Linked DNA regions of Homo sapiens: region 2 is linked to region 1. A link means that fine-mapping ties the variant in region 1 to the expression of a gene that starts in the linked region. Tissue or cell type: blood mononuclear cells. Region 1 holds a variant in brackets; the other region holds the start of a gene. All regions are shown on one strand. Distances are between the middles of the regions.

Evidence for each region. PIP is the estimated chance that this variant, and not a neighbour inherited with it, causes the effect.
Region 2: it holds the start of MUTYH, and the variant in region 1 is fine-mapped to the expression of MUTYH in blood mononuclear cells (TOPMed, PIP above 0.99). The same link has a PIP of 0.9 or more in nasal epithelium.

Annotation. Positions count from the first base shown.
Region 1 is chr1:45,381,555-45,386,701 of GRCh38, forward strand. TESK2 (testis associated actin remodelling kinase 2) reads right to left here. Exons shown (of 11, transcript NM_007170.3): 4 at 4,358-4,406. Among named protein-coding and RNA genes, the nearest start is that of TOE1, 44 kb to the left of the region's middle. The variant T/C (reference allele first, on the strand shown) is at 3,093.
Region 2 is chr1:45,337,675-45,342,821 of GRCh38, forward strand. It overlaps MUTYH (mutY DNA glycosylase), which reads right to left and starts at 2,296. Exons shown (of 16, transcript NM_001048174.2): 1 at 2,225-2,296. It overlaps TOE1 (target of EGR1, exonuclease), which reads left to right and starts at 2,496. Exons shown (of 8, transcript NM_025077.4): 1 at 2,496-2,630; 2 at 3,399-3,541; 3 at 3,629-3,669; 4 at 3,799-3,895; 5 at 4,275-4,433; 6 at 4,710-4,969. The coding sequence starts at 2,579. RefSeq lists enhancers at 1,818-2,485, 2,486-3,154, 2,507-2,856, 3,155-3,821.

The DNA.
Region 1 (5,147 bases):
CCCAGCAAATTTCAGCCTAGAGCAGACCACCAGCTGACCTGCAGATGCATGAGTGAGCCTGAGATCAGCACAACTGCCAAATCTAGCCCCACTCAGTTCAGCTAACTCTGGAAATGTATGAGAAATAAACGTTTATTGTATGCTTTTGAGGTTTTGTGGCTGGAGGGCAACAGCTAACCAATACACAGAATTATATTTTCTGTTAAAAAAAAAACAAAGATTTACACTTCCCTGATACTTGTGACTAAGTGAAAGACAAGGTTAGGTCTTGTGAATGAAAGACATACTTATGGTACATTCCTATTCTTTTTTTTTTTTTTTTTTTTTTTTAAGAGGTCTCTCTCTGTTGCTCAGGCTGAAGTGCAGTGGTACAATCATGGCTCATTGCATTCTCAACCTTCAACCTCCTGGGCTCAAGCAATCATCCTGTCTCAGCCTCCCAAGTAGCTGAGACTGTAGGTGTGTATCACCACATCTGGCTGATTTTTTTAATTTTTTGTAGAGTCTGGGTCTCACTATGTTGCCAAGGCTGGTTTCAAAATCATGGCCTCAGGCAATCCTTCTGCCTCTACCTCCTAAAAGTGTTGGGATTATAGGCATGAGCCACTGCACCCAGCCTCAATACAGATTCATATTTCAACTCATTAAATTTAAAAGGTTTCATGTGACTTTTCACCAAACCGTTTTCACTATATATTTTTTGAAACAGGGTCTTGCTCTGTCACCAAGGCTGGAATACAGTAGTGCAAGTATGGCTCACTGCAGCCTCAACCTCCTGGGCTCAGGTGATCCTCCTACCTCAGCCTCTCCAATAGCTGGGACTACAGGTGCATGCTACCACACCTGACTAATTTTTGTATTTTTTGTAGAGACAGGCTTTTGCCATGTTGCCCAGGCTGGTCTCAAATTTCTGAGCTCAAGCAATCTGCCCACCTTGGCCTCTGGAAGTGTTGGGATTACAGGCGTGAACTACCATGCCCAGACTATGCTTTCACTTTAACAAATACTAGTTTGCTTAAAAACTTGAGTCAGCTGGCCGGGCGCGGTGGCTCACACCTGTAATCCCAGCACTTTGGGAGGCCAAGGCAGGCGGATCACCTGAGGTCAGGAGTTCAAGACCAGCCTGACCAACATGGAGAAACCCCGTCTCTACTAAAAATACAAAATTAGCCGGTCATGGTGGCGCATGCCTGTAATCCCAGCTACTCAGGAGGCTGAGGCAGGAGAATTGCTTGAATCTGGGAGGTGGATTGCAGTGAGCTGAGATCGGGCCATTGCACTCCAGCCTGGGCAACAAGAGTGAAACTCCGTCCCCCCAAAAAAAAAATCTTTAGTCTATCATTACTACAGGTAGTTTAAAAATAAAAACTAAGTGTCTGACTGTTCCAAGTTCAATTAATGTCTACAATTACAAAGAAGACTCATGGAAATGGTTCAAGCCCAGGAAAGTCCAGATCACTAATGTATATGGGAAATATTCTTCCTAATAATGTCAATGTTTTATAGGTATTAATGAGTGCCATGCTTGTCTACTGTAATTATTGACAAATAAATGTGAAGAGAAATGAAGAATGGTACTCACATTACTTTGGAGGACAAGCATTCCACCAACTGAAAAGTATTTGGTGAATGTCATCTAAGTTTCAAGGACTGTGCTAGATATTTTTAATAATTTATTTTTTATTATCCTTACCATATAGTTGTGCTGCCAAGTCAAATTATAAGGCAATTAAACCTAGAAGTCTCGAAAGACCTATGCCATCAAGGCCTTTGCTGATCCCTTCTAAAAATAACCAAGAGCATTTGGCTATTTGGGCTTCATCACTACCAGTCTATTAACATCATATTAAAAATTACTAATATCATAAGCTATGTCAAAATCTCATTAATGCTGCTGGAAAGACTGGCAATAAATACTCTTCCATAAAGTACACATTGTATGTTTTATATGGCTATAAAGAAGCTAACAAGCAGCAGATTAAGTACAACATGGCCAAGAGAATATTGCATTATGATCACTCATTACTGTCATTTCCACCACAACCTGCTTTAAAATATGCAACTTAACACAGATTTTAAAGGATGTTCTTCTCTGTCGGCAAAATTAACACACCAGCCCTTCCAATGAATTCACATTTCAGAGAACAATCACACATGCAGGGAATGCATCAAATACTTTTATGCTTGTTAGCGTCAGAACTCTGGTAGACAGAAGGAAGGGGAGAATTTTATCTCTGAAGAATTTATAGACTCACTTCCAAGAAAAAAAATACATGGCAAATGTTTCTTGATCTGGGGTGCTGGTTATGGGTGTGTTCATTTGTAAAAATTTTGTGAGTGGTACTTTTCATATGTATACTTTTTCTGATATGTTATACTTCAGTAAAAAGTCTAATTTAATGACACTAACAGCGGTATAGGACTAAGTACAAAATGAAAAATATTAACAATTCAGAGTTCAGAAGAGGGACTAGTCACTGTTATTTTGTTCAAAGAGTTAACATGTATTAAATAATTTATACATGCCAGGCACTGTACTAAATAAGTATTTTATATTTCATCCTCCCAACATCCTTGTGAGGTCAACATTATATCAACAGCATTTGCCACAATTAATACTCCTTCCTTGAAACTCTTTCCTTTTCATTACAGGCCAGCACGTTCTTCTGGTTTTCTACCTACCTCACTAACTGCTCCTTCTCAGTCTGTCCTTCTCCCCAGACTTTCATTCATTCATTCATCTATCTATCTATCGACAGGGTCTCACTCTATGTATGTATGTATGTATGTATGTATGTATGTACGTACGTATCTATCTATCTATCTATCTATCTGTCTATCTATCTATCTATCTATCTATCTATCTATCTATCTATGTATCTAGAGACAGGGTCTCACTCTGTTGCCCAGGCTGGAGTGCAGTGGCACAATCATGGCTCACTATAGCCTCAAACTCCTGGGCTCAAGCAATCTTGCTGCCCCAGACTCCTGAGTAAATAGGACTACAGGTACATGCCATCACATCCAGCTAATTATTAATTTTTTTTTTTTTTTTTTTTTTTTTTTTTTTTTGTAGAGACAGAGCCTTGCTA[T/C]GTTGCCCAGGCTGGTCTCGAAATCCTGGTCTTAGGTAATCCTCTCACCTCAGACTCCCAAATATTCTAGGGCTCAGCTCTTGGTCATCTTCTCTATCTAAACTCCCTGGGGCAGGTATTATTAATTATTATTATCCCCATTATACAGATGGAAACTTTGAGATACAGACAGATTCAAACGTATGTAATCAAGACTTCAGAGGCCATGCTCTTAACCTCTTCACCATTCTGTCTTCTTTGGCTTTCCATTTAAGAGGCAGGGCATAGCTGCACACATTCCACATTCTAGTGCCTTCAGTAACTGAGAAAAGAGAGAGACTGAGGCACATGGGACCCTCTTTCATAAGCTATTAAGGACTAATACCAGTTACCAAGCCAGTAAAAAACCAACACTCTTGCAAATTCTGTTAAACAACTTTCCTTCCTAAGTTTCTTCACTTTGTACTTTGGTAATTGCTTCTCAAGGAGGAATGTGAAAAGAATCTAGAACATAGATTCTCAAATCCAGATGCTCATGAAATAATCTGAGGAGCTTTTAAAAATATAGATGTAATAGGCCCTATACAAACCTATTAAACCTAGAAGATTCCAGGAATCTGTGTTTCCAAGGAGCACCCAAGCAAGGTCTGAAGTTGATAACTTGGTACCTGAATTGGCTCTAAAGAGAGTTCTCTGATCCTCGGAGGATGAATAATGACTATCACATATTCCGCCTAGCAGAGGCTGGAAATGAAACGAGAATGAAGATGTAAACTGATTCCAACAAGTAATAAGACCAACCAGGAAACCACAGCAGGGACTGTGGAATTCTAGATCAGGACAGCAAACATTACCAGGTGGTCTGGTAATTTGTTGCCATAGAGAGTTTGCAGTCAAGTGCTGTCATCCCTTGGCTTAGGATGGAGTCATATCTAGGCAGCAAGAGCTAACTTAATACTTTAATACTTGAGCACTCATATTGTCAGAGTATTCACCAAGTATTATGAGGGAATAGAAGGACATTAAGAAATACTGCCCATTCTGCACATGTACCCCAGAACTTAAAGTGTATGTGTGTGTGTGTGTATATATATATATATATATATATATAAAGAAATACTGCCATTGTTCCCAGGCAACAGAATAAAGCATTATTAACACTGCCATTTTTGCATAAACATAAATGCACATACATTTTGTTTACATATGCAAGCAACACTTACTATGGAACTATAAATGCTGAAACTAAGGCAAATACGTTACTTCAACACTTACTGATGTCTTACCTCTGTAAGTGCATGCAATTGTCCTTGATGAACACATACACCCATGAACCTAAAGAACAAGACAGAATTATTTAACAAGTGAAAAGGACACAAATATAAATTCATATAGAGAAATCAGGTTAGTTACCCATGCATTAGAAACAACCTGTGGGGTGCGGCATGATGGCTTACATCTGTAATCCCCGCACTTTAGGAGGCAGAGGTGTGCGGATCACCTGAGGTCAGGAGTTCAAGACCATCCTGGCCAACATGGTGAAACCACATCTCTATTAAAAATACAAAAATTAGGCAGGTGTGGTGGCATGCGCCTGTAGTCCGAGCTGCTCAGGAGACTGAGGCAGGAGAATCCCTTGAACCTGGAAGGCAGAGGTTGCAGTGAGCTGAGATCGCACCATTGCACTCCAGCCTAGGGGACAAGAGCGAGACTTTGACTCAAAAAAAAAAAAAAAAAAAAGAGACTGCATCTAAAAAAAAAAAAAGGAAAGATAGATAGAAAAGAAAGGAAGGGAAAGGGAAAGGCAAAGAGAAAGGGAAAGGGAAAGGAAAGGAAGAAAGAACCTGTGAAGCCCCCTGCTATCTTGTACAGCCCTGTAGACTCTTAATCTTTTTGTTGTTTTTAATTATTTCAAGAGTTTTAGGGGTACAGGTGGTTTTTGGTTATATGGATTAGTTTTTTTACTGGTGATTTCTGGGATTTTGGAACACCTGTCACCTGAGCATTGTACACTGTACCCCATATGTGGTTTTGTTGCTTTTTTTTTGAGACAGAGTCTCACCCTGTTGCCAAGCT
Region 2 (5,147 bases), 44 kb before region 1:
TGCAGTGAGCTATGATTGTGCCACTGCACTCCACCCTGGGCTCAGCAAGACCTTGTCTCTTAAAGAAAAAAAAAGATTGAGCAAATATTTATAGAGCCCCCTAATATGTGCCAAGCAGTTTTAGGCACTTGGCATACTTCAGTAAATAAAACATCAAAAGTTCCTGCCCTCAGGGAGCTTATATTCTAATGGGGACAGAAAAGGAATAATGAACATAAGTAAATTCCATAAGATGTTAGGTGATAAATATTAGCATAAAAAGCAAAAATTAGACCAAGAGGGGAAAAAAAAGAGTGCCAAGGTGGGGTTTAATGTTGCAATTTTAAAGACTGTGGTCAAGGTAGACCCAAAGCATTCTAAGTGAGTGCAAAGGCCCCAAGGAGGGTGCCTGGTATGTCTGTGGTACAGTAAGTAGGTCAATGTGGTTAGAATGGAATGAGATGGGACTGAGTGGTAGAAGAGGTCAGAGAAGTAAACCAGATGAGGTGGGGAGAGGAGGGTCACAAAGTACCTTATAGGCCATTGGAGGGATTTGGCTGCCACACCCTTGCTCTTAGAAGGCAGTCCTCTTACTACAGCCTTGCAGGTCCAGTGATCCGGGCACCATCCGCCTCATCCCCTCACTATGCTCTAGCCAAGGTTGACTGAATTTAGTTGCTTAAACACCTCAAGTGTGTCTGCCCACCTTGGGGCCTCACACAATCCATTTCCTCTGTTTGGACTCTTTTATGCTTTTACCTAACACCTTATCATTTTTCAAGTCTTGACTGAAATGTCCAAATCAGGTCCCCTCATCTTATCCTATCACATATTTCTGCCTTGTAGCTCTTACCTAATGTAATTTTACATTACTTTGATTCTTTCCATCAGTGTGTACTTCCTGAATTTGACTGTAAAAAACGACTTGAGTGCAAGGACTGATTCTCTTGTTGATTGGTGTGTGTCCAAAGTCAGTGCCAGGTAAACTGTACACAATAGATACCTGTTAAATGAATTAATGGGATGGGGGATAGTCAAAAGAGTTTCCCTTTTTTAGGATAGGAGAAATCCAAAGAGTTTTTTTATTTTTGTTTTTTTTTTGTTTGTTTGTTTTGTTTTTAGAGACAGTGTGTCCCTCACTTTGCTGCTCTGCCACTCAGGCTGGAGTGCAATAAGAACATGGCTCACTGCAGCCTCGACCTCCTGGGCTCAAGCCATCCTCTCACCTCAGCCTCCTGTAGCTGGGACTACAGGTGCGCACCACCATGCCCAACTAATTTTTAATTTTCTTTTTGTAGAGACAAGGTTTCACTATGTTGCCCAGGCTAGTCTTGAACTCCTAGGGTCAAGCGATCCTCCCACCTTGGCCTCCTAAGATGATTACAGGCCATAAGCCACTGCGCCCGGCCCAAGCAGTTCTGAATAATGATGAAATGGGCTCAGTTGAGAGAAGCTGAAGATTAACTATAAACAATGAGTAACAAAGGAGCACTGGAAGGCAGAGGTGGATGGGAATCGTAGTGTTTACGGAGGGACTAGTCTCCAATAGGAATTTTTTTTTTTTTTTTTTTTTTGAGACGGAGTTTCGCTCTTGTTGCCTAGGCTGAAGTGCAAAATGGCGTGATCTCGGCTCACCGCAACCTCTGCCTCCCAGGTTCAAGCGATTCTCCTGCCTCAGCCTCCCAAGTAGTGGGATTACAGGCGCCCGCACCATACCCAGCTAATTTTTTTTGTACTTTTAGTAGAGACGGGGTTTCACCATGTTGGCCAGGCTGGTTTTGAACTCCGGACCTCAGGTAATCCGCCCGCCTCGGCCTCCCAAAGTGCTGGGATTACAGGCGTGAGCCACCGCGCCCGGCCTAGGAACCTCTTTCAAATTCAATCACCCTCTAGGTCGACTATACCGCCTAGCTGCTTCACAATTTGTCCCTTCCTCGCCATCCATACTGCCAGCCTTAATTCAAGTTCACATTATCACTTGATTGGATTATTACAAAAGCTTCCCTACCAATCGGTCGCTCTTACACCCTGGGCAGCCTCCTCCGATGGCCCACTCCCCGCCTCTTTCACTTTCTGGAGATCACTGAGCTCTCCATCCTCTCTGGGAATTTACCGATGCCCAGAACGCCCTTCTTTCCCCCACACGACCCTCTCCTAGTCTAACTCCTGGGCGTGCTTTAAGCTCAGCTCAGGCAGCGTCACCTTCTCTGGAAAGCCCAAACCCAGCCACCCCACTACCCGCTACCCGCGGCCCACGCTGATGAAGACAGCAGAACACGGAGGCCCCGCGTTCCCGCCGCGAGAGCAGGAGAGAAAGATTACCTCCCGCGAGCTCTAGCGCGCCCGGCTTTCCGGCGCACTCCAGGGGGCGTGGCTCGGGTCCACCCGGGCTGCGAGCCGGCAGCACAGGCCAATAGGCAATTAGCGCGCGCCAGGCTGCCTTCCCCGCGCCGGACCCGGGACGTCTGAACGGAAGTTCGACCCATCGGCGACCCGACGGCGAGACCCCGCCCCATCCCCGACTGCCTGAACCGCGCCAGGAGACGGACCGCAAGTCCAGCGTACCCACAGACGACTCAGGCGGGAGACGAGCGGTGTCATGGCCGCCGACAGTGACGATGGCGCAGTTTCAGCTCCCGCAGCTTCCGACGGTGAGCGGCTTCCCAGAGGTAGCCTTCAAAGCCTCTGCGCTCTGGGAGAGGGGAAGGCCTCGGGCTCATAGTTCTAGAGGCTCCTCAAGCTTCAGAGGACTGCTCCTTCCGCCTGAACTAGCCACGAGGAGACTACAAGTTCCGTTGTACACCGCGGCTCCGGCTGCAAAAGCCTGGAGCGTTGGGAGCATGGGGCTGATGGAGGCATGGCGGGAGATGTAGTCTGGAGCTCATAACGGTTAGTAGTAATAGTTGTGATTCAGTTCAGTGGAGTGGATTGAGCGTTGTGATCCAAAGGAAGGTAGGACGTATTGGGAGCTCTGGTGTGGGGCACTGCCAGGCTCTGGGGCTTACTGGGAGCTGTTGCTTGTGGCGCTGGGGCACCATGAGAACAGTAGTATGGATCCCTGTGGGATATTAAGGGAGCTGAGATCCTCAAGCCCTACAAAATGTTTCCTGCAGGACATGGGAAAAAAGAATCAAAGGTCGTCTAGTCCAACTTTCTCCTCTACAGATTGTGAAAGCGAGGTGGGAAGTAATTTACCCAGGCTCATACAAGCCAGTAGAAGACTCAGGCTTCCTCTCCCCAAATTCAGGGCATTCTCCACTCCAAGGCCTGTGTGTAGAACACGTGGGTTACAAAGGCTTGTGGGAAAAGCTACCAATGGAAACTACCCCCCTTACCACCATCACCGTGGCCTAGCTTGGTGTCTGTTCCCCTGGGCTCTTTCCTTAAGCATGAACATCCATCACCCTCCTAACCCCCAGGTGGTGTCAGCAAAAGCACAACATCTGGGGAGGAGCTAGTAGTCCAGGTTCCCGTAGTGGATGTGCAAAGCAACAACTTCAAGGAGATGTGGCCATCCCTCCTGCTAGCCATAAAGACAGCTAATTTCGTGGCTGTGGACACGGTGAGAGTTGGGAAACAAGGAGGGCAGGTGGTTGTGAAGGGGCTGGTGCTAGAGGCCTGTCACAACTCTCCCTTTACCTACCCACAGGAGCTGAGTGGGCTTGGGGACAGGAAGAGTTTGCTGAACCAGTAAGTATAAGCCCTTTTCTCTTTAGTGCCAGCCCTCAACTGTGGAGTGGGGGGGTCACAGACCTGGGTGGTTTGGGTCCTTCATAAGGCTAACTCCTAGCCACAGCAACCCCCATACCCAACCCCAAGGTGCATTGAGGAACGTTACAAGGCCGTGTGTCATGCTGCCAGGACCCGTTCTATCCTTTCCCTGGGCCTCGCCTGCTTCAAGCGGCAGCCAGACAAGGTATGAGCTGATCTCACCCCAATCCTAGGTGTGGCTGTGGGGTGGAGGGTAGAGAGATTCTAGGGAACATCAGATAGGAAGCATTTCTCTCCCAAATCTTTTTTTTTGACTTGATAGTTTTTTTTTTTTTATTTGAATAGGTTTATGGGGAACAGGTGGTGTTTGGTTAAATGAGTAAGTTCTTTAGTGGCAATTTCTGAGATTTTGGTGCACCTATCACCCAGTGTACACTGTGCCCAATGCGTAGTCTTTTATCCCTCACCTGCCTCCATCCTTTCCCCCCTGAGTCCCCAGAGTCCATTGTATCATTCTTAAGCTTTTGCATCCTCCTAGCTTGGCTCTCTGAAATCTTGATATAGCAGACTTCTCTTTCTCCCAGGGTGAACATTCCTATCTGGCTCAAGTGTTCAATCTCACTCTGCTGTGCATGGAGGAGTATGTCATAGAACCAAAGTCTGTGCAGTTCCTGATACAGCATGGCTTCAACTTCAACCAGCAGTATGCCCAAGGCATCCCCTACCATAAGGGCAATGACAAGGTAGGCCTCTAGCCTCCCTAGCCTTGAGTCTGCCCTTTCTGTGACTTTATTTCTTCCTACCCTAGGCTGGATGTCTGGGGAGAATCTGCTTCTTAGGGAGTATGGGGAATCACTAGTGACAGGGCTTGGGAAACAAGACTGGTATGAGGAGGGTGGGCAGCATTGGGTAAGGTAGAGAGAGAGCGTTCCAAGTGGGGAAGTCTGGGATAAGTGCCCAGCAGAAGAGGCTCCCTGGGGGACTCTGTCCTCCTCATTGACCCCTTTACTTTCATCTAGGGTGATGAGAGCCAGAGCCAGTCAGTACGGACCCTATTCCTGGAGCTAATCCGAGCCCGCCGGCCCCTGGTGCTACACAATGGCCTTATAGACTTGGTGTTCCTGTACCAGAACTTCTATGCACACCTCCCTGAGAGTCTGGGAACCTTCACCGCTGACCTGTGTGAGATGTTCCCAGCAGGCATTTATGACACCAAATATGCTGCTGAGTTTCATGCCCGTTTCGTGGCCTCCTACTTAGAATATGCCTTCCGGAAATGGTGAGGAAATGGTTGAGGGAAAGGGGTGGGGCCTGATACGAGTTTATTTCATTCACTTAAGATATTTATTGAGCTCCTACCATGTGCCCAGGCAGTGTTTTAGGTGCTGAGGATTCAGCAGTGAACAAAACAGACCACAAAACCCTGCTCTTATGGAGCTTATATGCTAGTGGACCAT